Regions from separate parts of the Homo sapiens genome. Here region 1 is linked to region 2. The links come from fine-mapping of genetic effects on gene expression. A gene starts in region 2. The other region holds a variant in brackets. All regions are shown on one strand. Distances are from middle to middle.

Evidence for each region. PIP is the estimated chance that this variant, and not a neighbour inherited with it, causes the effect. A credible set is the group of variants that fine-mapping cannot tell apart.
Region 1: its variant is the best candidate, but not a certain one, in a credible set for the expression of ZNF470 in esophagus mucosa (GTEx, PIP 0.51).

The regions. Positions count from the first base shown.
Region 1 is chr19:56,443,973-56,448,367 of GRCh38, reverse strand. The region is part of intron 6 of ZNF667 (zinc finger protein 667); the gene reads left to right. Among named protein-coding and RNA genes, the nearest start is that of ZNF667, 31 kb to the left of the region's middle. The variant C/T (reference allele first, on the strand shown) is at 2,263.
Region 2 is chr19:56,564,983-56,569,377 of GRCh38, reverse strand. ZNF470 (zinc finger protein 470) reads right to left here and starts at 1,910. Exons shown (of 6, transcript NM_001001668.4): 1 at 1,340-1,910; 2 at 495-620. ZNF470-DT (ZNF470 divergent transcript) reads left to right here and starts at 1,357. Exons shown (of 2, transcript XM_047439806.1): 1 at 1,357-2,305. The coding sequence starts at 1,357. The coding sequence ends at 2,295. RefSeq lists enhancers at 1,471-1,580, 1,961-2,170, 2,181-2,230.

The DNA.
Region 1 (4,395 bases), 120 kb after region 2:
GTTTTAGTCTGTGGTGGGGGTACTTGCTGGAACTCAAGTTTCCACCACTGTGGTGGACAATTCTTAGGCTAGAGCTGATTTAAATGCTTCCTCTGGGGGTGCTGGCCAAATTCTGCCCCACGTTGCTTTCTGCTGTGACAGGGCAGCACTGAGTTCCAATGCAGAGTCCCACCATCACTCCATTCTTCCTCCTCCAAACACATAGATTCTCTCTTGTTGCCATGCTGCACTGCCAGGCATTGGGGGAGGGGTGGTGCAGGCATATGATGACTGTCTTTTCTACCCTCCTCAGTGCCTCTTTCTTTGAATACGATGTTAAAACTTGATACTTTGATTGCTCACCTAATTTTTGGTTCCTATGAAGGTGTTTTCTTATGTGGATAGTTGTTCAATTTGGCGTTACTGCAGAGGGGGCAATCGCTGGAGGGCTCTATTTGGCCATCTGGCTCTTCCACTTTCTCCTTTTTAGTTGTTTTGTTTGTTTTTTGAGATAGAGTCTCCCTCTGTCACCTAGGCTGGAGTGCAGTGGCACCATCTCAGCTCACTGCAACCTCCGCCTCCTGGGTTCATGCAATTCTCCTGCCCCAGCCTCCTGAGTAGCCGGGATTACAGGCACACATCACCATACCCAGCTAATTTTTGTGTTTTTAGTAGAGATGGGGTTTCACCATGTTGGTCAGGATAGTCTTGAACTCCTGACCTTGTGATCCACCCACCTCGGCCTCCCAAAGTGCTAGGATTAAAGGTGTGAGTCACCATGTTTGTTTGTTTTTTTTTAAGGAGACAGGGACAGGGTCTTCTGTTACCCAGGCTGGAGTGTAGTGGTGCAGTCATGGCTCACTGCAACCTTAAACTCCTGGGCTCAAGCAGTCCTCCTGCCTCAGCCTCCCAAGTACCAGTTTGTTTCTTGAGCCCTTGTGGATAGACTGGATATCCATATTGGTTTACCCATACTGGATAGGCCATAAATCTTTCTTGTAGATTTACTAGCATTTGTTTTCTGTTTTTACTTATTCTCGTGAATTGTTTTTTCGTGATCTTTCCCCTTTTATCTAGCAGTGACTTTTTTATTTTCTGCTTGTATAGTAAGCTTTCATATAGAAAATACATTAACCATATGACATTACATTTGACTTCAAATATTTCCCCATTCTTTCCTAAGTCTTTTTATTTTATTTACCTCTTATTTTTCTACTTGGTTATATGAAAGTTTTTTTCATTTTTGTGTGATTGGAAGTATTGGCATTCACATTATAATTTTTCTTTTTATTTCCATAGTTAGAAAGAATTTGGGGTAGATTTCATATTATTTTAGTTTGTAATGATTTTGTACTTTATATTGAACTAATTTACCTGGGATTAATTTTGGTGTCTGGTGTGGTTTAAGGATTTCCACATTGAAGATGGGGAGATGGGCTGAGGGGATATGTTAGTATTCCACACAGGAAGGAACAAAGGAAGGTACAAAGGAAAAGGAAGGGAAGCTAAGAGTTTTAGGAAAATGTGAGAGGGAGAAGCAGCTTAACTGATGTGACTTAATGGGATGTGGGGTGGGAAGGACTATAGGAGGAATCTTGGGTTTCTTGTTTTGCTGATGCTGCTAGCTTCACTATAAACATTTCCATTATCTTCCTGTGTTAATTCCTTATTTTGTCTGGTTGTTTTCTGGAACTTCTACTAATAATAATTATAATGGTAGCTACTACCAGTTATTAAGCAACTGCAGGTCCACAAAGCTTTCTCTAGAACCCTTGGAGCAAGATGTGTTTCAGAATTCAGAATGGTGCAGATTTTAGAAAGGTGAACAGGTCATATACTATGTGTGGCATAACATACCCAGCAGGGGCTGGAGCAGTACCCCAAAATCAAACACATTGAGATAGCTGCAAAGACTAGACTTCCTAAGAGCAATAAATGGAGGCTATGAATAGCCTCATTGCATTTCAGATGGGGTTTCACTCCAAATATGTATTCAAAAAGGAAAAGAAAAAAGGAAAGAAGACTTTGGTTCTCAGCTTTTTGAATACTGGAATGGCAGATTAGAGGTCATAGCATGTGCCAGAAATCTCGCACATTATTTCTAATTCTCATGAAAACCTTGTGAGGTACGTGATTATTATCTATATTTTCAAGATAATATGCTTATGGTAATAGAGTTAACAAGTGTGTCACAAGATTATGCAGTTAAATGAAAAACACCTCAGTTAATTCAGTAATGTCTGCCTTTAAAGCACACCTATGAAATAGAAATATAATGTGAGC[C/T]ACATATGTACTGAAAAAATCTTTAGTATCCACATTCAAATAAAAATCTAAAACCAGTGATATGGTTTGGATCTGTGTCCCCACCAAATCTCATGTTGAAATTTAATCCTCAGTGTTGGAGGTGGGGTCTGTGGGAGGTGATTGGATCATGGGGGTGGATTTCTCACCAAATCTCATGTTGAAATTTAATCCTCAGTGTTGGAGGTGGGGTCTGTGGGAGGTGATTGGATCATGGGGGTGGATTTCTCACCAAATCTCATGTTGAAATTTAATCCTCAGTGTTGGAGGTGGGGTCTGGTGGGAGGTGATTGGATCATGGGGGTGGATTTCTCACCAAATCTCATGTTGAAATTTAATCCTCAGTGTTGGAGGTGGGGTCTGGTGGGAGGTGATTGGATCATGGGGGTGGATTTCTCACCAAATCTCATGTTGAAATTTAATCCTCAGTGTTGGAGGTGGGGCCTGGTGGGAGGTGATTGGATCATGGGGGTGGATTTCTCACCAAATCTCATGTTGAAATTTAATCCTCAGTGTTGGAGGTGGGGCCTGGTGGGAGGTGATTGGATCATGGGGGTGGATTTCTCACCAAATCTCATGTTGAAATTTAATCCTCAGTGTTGGAGGTGGGGTCTGTGGGAGGTGATTGGATCATGGGGGTGGATTTCTCACCAAATCTCATGTTGAAATTTAATCCTCAGTGTTGGAGGTGGGGTCTGGTGGGAGGTGATTGGATCATGGGGGTGGATTTCTCACCAAATCTCATGTTGAAATTTAATCCTCAGTGTTGGAGGTGGGGCCTGGTGGGAGGTGATTGGATCATGGGGGTGGATTTCTCACCAAATCTCATGTTGAAATTTAATCCTCAGTGTTGGAGGTGGGGTCTGTGGGAGGTGATTGGATCATGGGGGTGGATTTCTCACCAAATCTCATGTTGAAATTTAATACTCAGTGTTGGAGGTGGGGTCTGTGGGAGGTGATTGGATCATGGGGGTGGGTTTCTCACCAAATCTCATGTTGAAATTTAATCCTCAGTGTTGGAGGTGGGGTCTGTGGGAGGTGATTGGATCATGGGGGTGGATTTCTCACCAAATCTCATGTTGAAATTTAATCCTCAGTGTTGGAGGTGGGGTCTGTGGGAGGTGATTGGATCATGGGGGTGGATTTCTCACCAAATCTCATGTTGAAATTTAATCCTCAGTGTTGGAGGTGGGGTCTGTGGGAGGTGATTGGATCATGGGGGTGGGTTTCTCACCAAATCTCATGTTGAAATTTAATCCTCAGTGTTGGAGGTGGGGTCTGTGGGAGGTGATTGGATCATGGGGGTGGATTTCTCACCAAATCTCATGTTGAAATTTAATCCTCAGTGTTGGAGGTGGGGTCTGTGGGAGGTGATTGGATCATGGGGGTGGATTTCTCACCAAATCTCATGTTGAAATTTCATCCTCAGTGTTGGAGGTGGGGTCTGTGGGAGGTGATTGGATCATGGGGGTGGGTTTCTCACCAAATCTCATGTTGAAATTAATCCTCAGTGTTGGAGGTGGGGTCTGGTGGGAGGTGATTGGATCATGGGGGTGGATTTCTCACCAAATCTCATGTTGAAATTTCATCCTCAGTGTTGGAGGTGGGGTCTGTGGGAGGTGATTGGATCATGGGGGTGGGTTTCTCATGAATGGCTTAGCACCATTCCCTTGGTGGTGTCTTAGCAATAGGGAGTGATTCTTACAAAATCTGATCGTTGTAATATGTGGCACCTCCTCCACACTCTCTCTCCTTGTTTCACCATGTGATGTGCCTTCTCCTACTTCGTCTTTCACCATGAGTAAGAGCTCACTGAGGCCTCCCCAGAAGCCAAGGAGGTGCCAGCACCATGCTTGTACAGCCTACTGAACCAGGAGCCAATTGAACCTCTTTTGTTTATAAATTACCCACTCAAGTATTTATTTATAGCAATATAGGAACTTCCTAATACAAACAGGTAAAATTAATTTTAGTAATATATGTATTTAACCTAATATATCCAACATATTATATCATATAACCAGCATTTTTACAATGAGATACTTTATACTTTTTTGTAGTAAATTTTCACAGTCTGGCATATGTTTTATACTCATAGTATACCTCAAACCAGCC
Region 2 (4,395 bases):
GAGAGAGGCATTCCTTTCGTTACAACAGAGTCCATGTGACTTGCAGACAACCAAATGAAAAAATCCTCATGAGGCCTAGGATCTCATTTTGTTTTGTGACAAACTACAGTGTTGAAGCAGTCCCTTGACTCCACTGAGCCATGTTTCCTTAATTAGGAAGGAAGAGGATAAAGTATCTGAATTAATTCTAGTTTCTTTCATCTAAATTCCACTGCCTTCTCAAAGGATTATCATAATGATGATAAAAATGAACACATTACATGGCAGGGACTATACCAAGTGCTTTACATGTATGAGGTCATTTAATCCTTATGACAGTACTGTGAGGTATATAATATTACCATCTCCATTTTACCTAAGAACTTAGAGTCATAAACTTTTTAAGAAAAAAACCCCAAACCTGCTCAGTGGAGGTTCTGGCATATGAACTATTTAGTTATTTAACCCTTTCAGAGTCAGTTTCTTTAATTGTCAAAAGTGGCTAAGAAACCTACCTGAGGCAGTAGTTGAGGAAACTACATGACAGCCAGTGACTCTGGAGTCAGCCTGTTCTGGATCTGAATCCCGGTTCTTCCACTTGCTAGTGATTACTTATCCTCTCTATGCTTCTGTGTCTTCATCTGTAAAAAAGAGGTAAGTAGTTCCTACTTCATAATGTTGTGAAGTTTGGTGCTGATACTCCCAAAAGGTCTTAGAACTGTGTCTGGCACATAATAAACACTCATTAAACATTAGCTATTACTATAGCATGCAGGAAACTAAACAAGCACAGAACAATATGGCTAAAAATAGCCCTTCCTCCCCCTTTCTCTTTATTGGAGTGGGAGGCCAGAGGGGAGGGAGAGAAGCCCAAGGAATGGGGATATCTTCCGTTATTGACTAGAACGTGATTAAGCCATAGAAAGGCTGGAATGCCTCGGCATTTCTGGGTGAAGCTGTGAATCTCGCCTTCTTCCCAAATCCTACAGTGATAGATGGGACAAGGCTCTGACGGGTAAAAATCTAAATGCTGAGCTATTCCTTCAACAGCAGCAGAGTACCCAGAAGTAATGCTATAATGGGTAATATTACGGGTAGTGTTCTCTCCCATGGGCCCTTAGTGATATACCAAGGACCTGAGTCAGGTTATCTGGTTAGGTGTCTCTGGCCAAGTCAAGGTCCCTCCCTAACTAAACCCAGCTCCACTCTGACCCAAGGTGACCCTCCAAATCTTTCGACTTCCAGGTCCACTAGCCTTAGAAACGGGGGACATCCTCCTCCAGCACCTGAACCCCGAAAGACAGCACCCAAAACCTCAATGTCCACTCCGGCAGCCACATCCGTCATCTGTCACTCTTACCTGTGTACTCAGTCCCCATGGTCTTCGCTCCTCGCCGTCCTGTGGACATGGAGCCCTGTCCTGGGCTCTGCCCCTTCCAGATAGGGCTGACAGGAAATGCTTCAGCCGAGGCTGCCCCGCCCGGGCAACTTCCCCGGGCTCTAGGACTTTGCCCACACTGGGCTCTACGCAGTCGATACAGGGGAGAACGGGGTAAGCCTCCTCCGGCCGGGTTTCCTGCTCTTGGCCACTTAAAGTGCTTCACTCATTCCAACACACACCGCCTTCCGCACGCCGCCGGGCCATGCACGCAGGCGCAGATTCGCGGCCACGCACCGGACAGTCACACACCGGGCCGCCATCCCCGCGCGCGCTCGCCCCTCCTCAGCACAGCACCGCACGCTCACCACGTATGGGCACTCACAGCCACCAGGCCACACGCGCACGCTCACGCCCGCCGCCCACACAGGAACCAGGACACCGCCCCCGCCGCGCCCCAGTCCAGCCTCGGCCGCTGCCCCGCCCAGACCTCCCTTCTCCTCAGCAACCGGCGGGACGTGCACTCGCCCGGCTTTGGGTCCTTTCCGGAAGTGGGCGTGTCCTCCGCTGCAATAGCCCCTGGGAAGTGTAGTCCGGAACGGAGGCGGCGTTCAGAAATAGGGCGCTGGCTTTGCCAGGAGCGGCTCCTCTCCAAGCCTGGCGGTCACTGCCCTGTGTCCCCTTTTGGGCCTCTCCTGGTCCTCCTGGTTGGATTAGGAGGCCTCTCAGCCCGGAGTCTGGGTCGCCGAAGTACAGGCCCCTTCACTGAAGCGACCCACGGCGCAGGGGTTTCTGGAAGCCATCGCCAGGCTCCGAGTGTTCAGATGCAGCTGCCAGGCTCAGGACGCAGAGAACTGGCTTCCAGCTCGCAGGAGCGCCTGTCCGTGGTGGGTAGGGTCGCAGGCGTGGGGTGTGCAGGAGCAGTGGGACAGCACTGAAACGCAGTCGGTAAGGCGTAGCGGCTACCCTCTGGAGAGGAAAACCATGACAGGGCGGGGCTTGGGGCGCGGGCGGGGCCTACGCGATAGAAAAGTGAGGAGATTGGGATTTGTCTGCTTTGCACACTTGTGACTTTCTGATGGTGCGCGTGTGGAACCTGTTTTATTTCATGCCTACTAGTTACTGCTCTCTGATATACGGTACGCCCCTCACCTCCCCCCACCCCATTTTATCTCTCCCTGCTGGAAGGAGGGTTCCAAGAAGGCACACAGCTTCCGTCCTGTTCAGGGTTATATTCTCAGTGACTAAAACAGCACATAGTAGGTGCTTAGTTTTTTATTTTTATTTTATTTTTTAGGAAATCACGAAATCTAGCATTGCCAGTCTCACCATGACACAACATGTTATAGGCTGAATATGTCCTCCCAAAATTACTATGGTGAAACCCTAACCCCTAGTGTGATGACGTTAGGAGGTGGGACTTTGGGGAGGTAACTGGTTTTAGATTAGGTCATAAGGGTGATACCCTTATGATGGGGTCAGTGCACTTATTAAAAAAGAGGAAGGAGGGGTCTCCATGTTTACACAACCACCAAGCAAAGGCCATGTGAGGACACAGCAGGATGTAACCCATTTGCAAGCCAACGGGGCCCTCACCAAGAACTGAATGTGCCAGCACTTTAACTTCCCAGCCTCCAGAATTGTGAAAAATAAAGTCTCTTAGTCAAGTCACTTAGTCTATGATATTTTGTTATAGCAGCCCCAGCTGACCAAGATACAGCATCATAGATACTGGCTCACCAGAAACTAACTCACCCTCCCAGTCACACTCAATCACCCAAGGCCACACAGTGACATCTAGACTGGACTCTCCTGGATCCAATTTATGTCAGACATCATAAACAACATAATAAAGCCAAGTCTAGCTGTGAAGATACTTTAACTATGAAACAGCAAATATCATCTTAGAGCTTGTAACGTTTGTGGTTATTTGAGTTGGATGAAAATGATAATATTCTCATTTTAGCTCTGGCATATAAAGAGCTCGGAAGCCTTCATTCCCATCTTCACAACAACAAAATCATTCAACAAACTGAAAATCAACTTTTCTTAGATCCATCAGAGAACTGAAGATAGAAAGGTAACTGACACCCCAAAATCCCGAGAAAGAAAAATACATAAAATTACAGCCAAGATTAGCTTACTTGAAGCAGAAGCCACTGGAGTTATAAACTGGTAAAAACTTTTATTTTTTATAATTTTGATGAATTGCTGGAGGCTTAGTGTGGGCTAACTTGTGAGTTAAAAACTCCTAGGGGCCCAATCTTAGATGGGCCCCCACACTTTCGTGAATTTTACCTCCAGAAACCCTATCAAATTCTCTCAGTGAAGAATGGGGAAAAATCTCAGGTTTTTGGGCAAGGGGAGGAGAAAAGTAAGCACCACATTTTCCATAATAAACACCTGCACTCCAAGAAAAACTACTTACTAGAGTCTTGTTGGACCTTGGGGAGAGGCAATTGGCCAGCTCCAGTCCCTCTATAGCCTGTCTGTCTCAGTAAGGCAGGATTTTTGAAAGGCTAAGAAGTGCTTCTGAAGATCACAGTCCAAGGCCTCAAGCCCACTAGAAAAATAGTATTTAATAATAAGATTATAGAATGCTTCCCTCCCCACTGTACCTCACTGCCACACTAATGGGGCTCTGGTCAATAACAGTAGATTACAACAGAGAAAACTGCAAGGCACAGACTCTATTTAAGAAGGAGTTCTTAGGGAAGCCCACAGAAGGAGAAGCATCTTGGAAAAAGTAGACAACATGCAAGAACAGATGGGTAATGTAAGCAGAGAGATGCAAACTGTAAGAAGGAATCAAAAGGAAATCCTAGCAATTGAAAACCATTGTAACAGACATGAAGATTACCTTTAGTGAGCCCCTCAGACTAAGACACTCTGAGAAATGAATGGGTGAGCTTGAAGATATGTTAATAGAAATTTCCCAAACTGAAATACAAAGAGGAAAAAAAAAGAATGAAAAAAGAAAAAGAACAGAATATCCAAGAACCATGGGACAATTACAGAAGGTGAAATATATGCGTAAC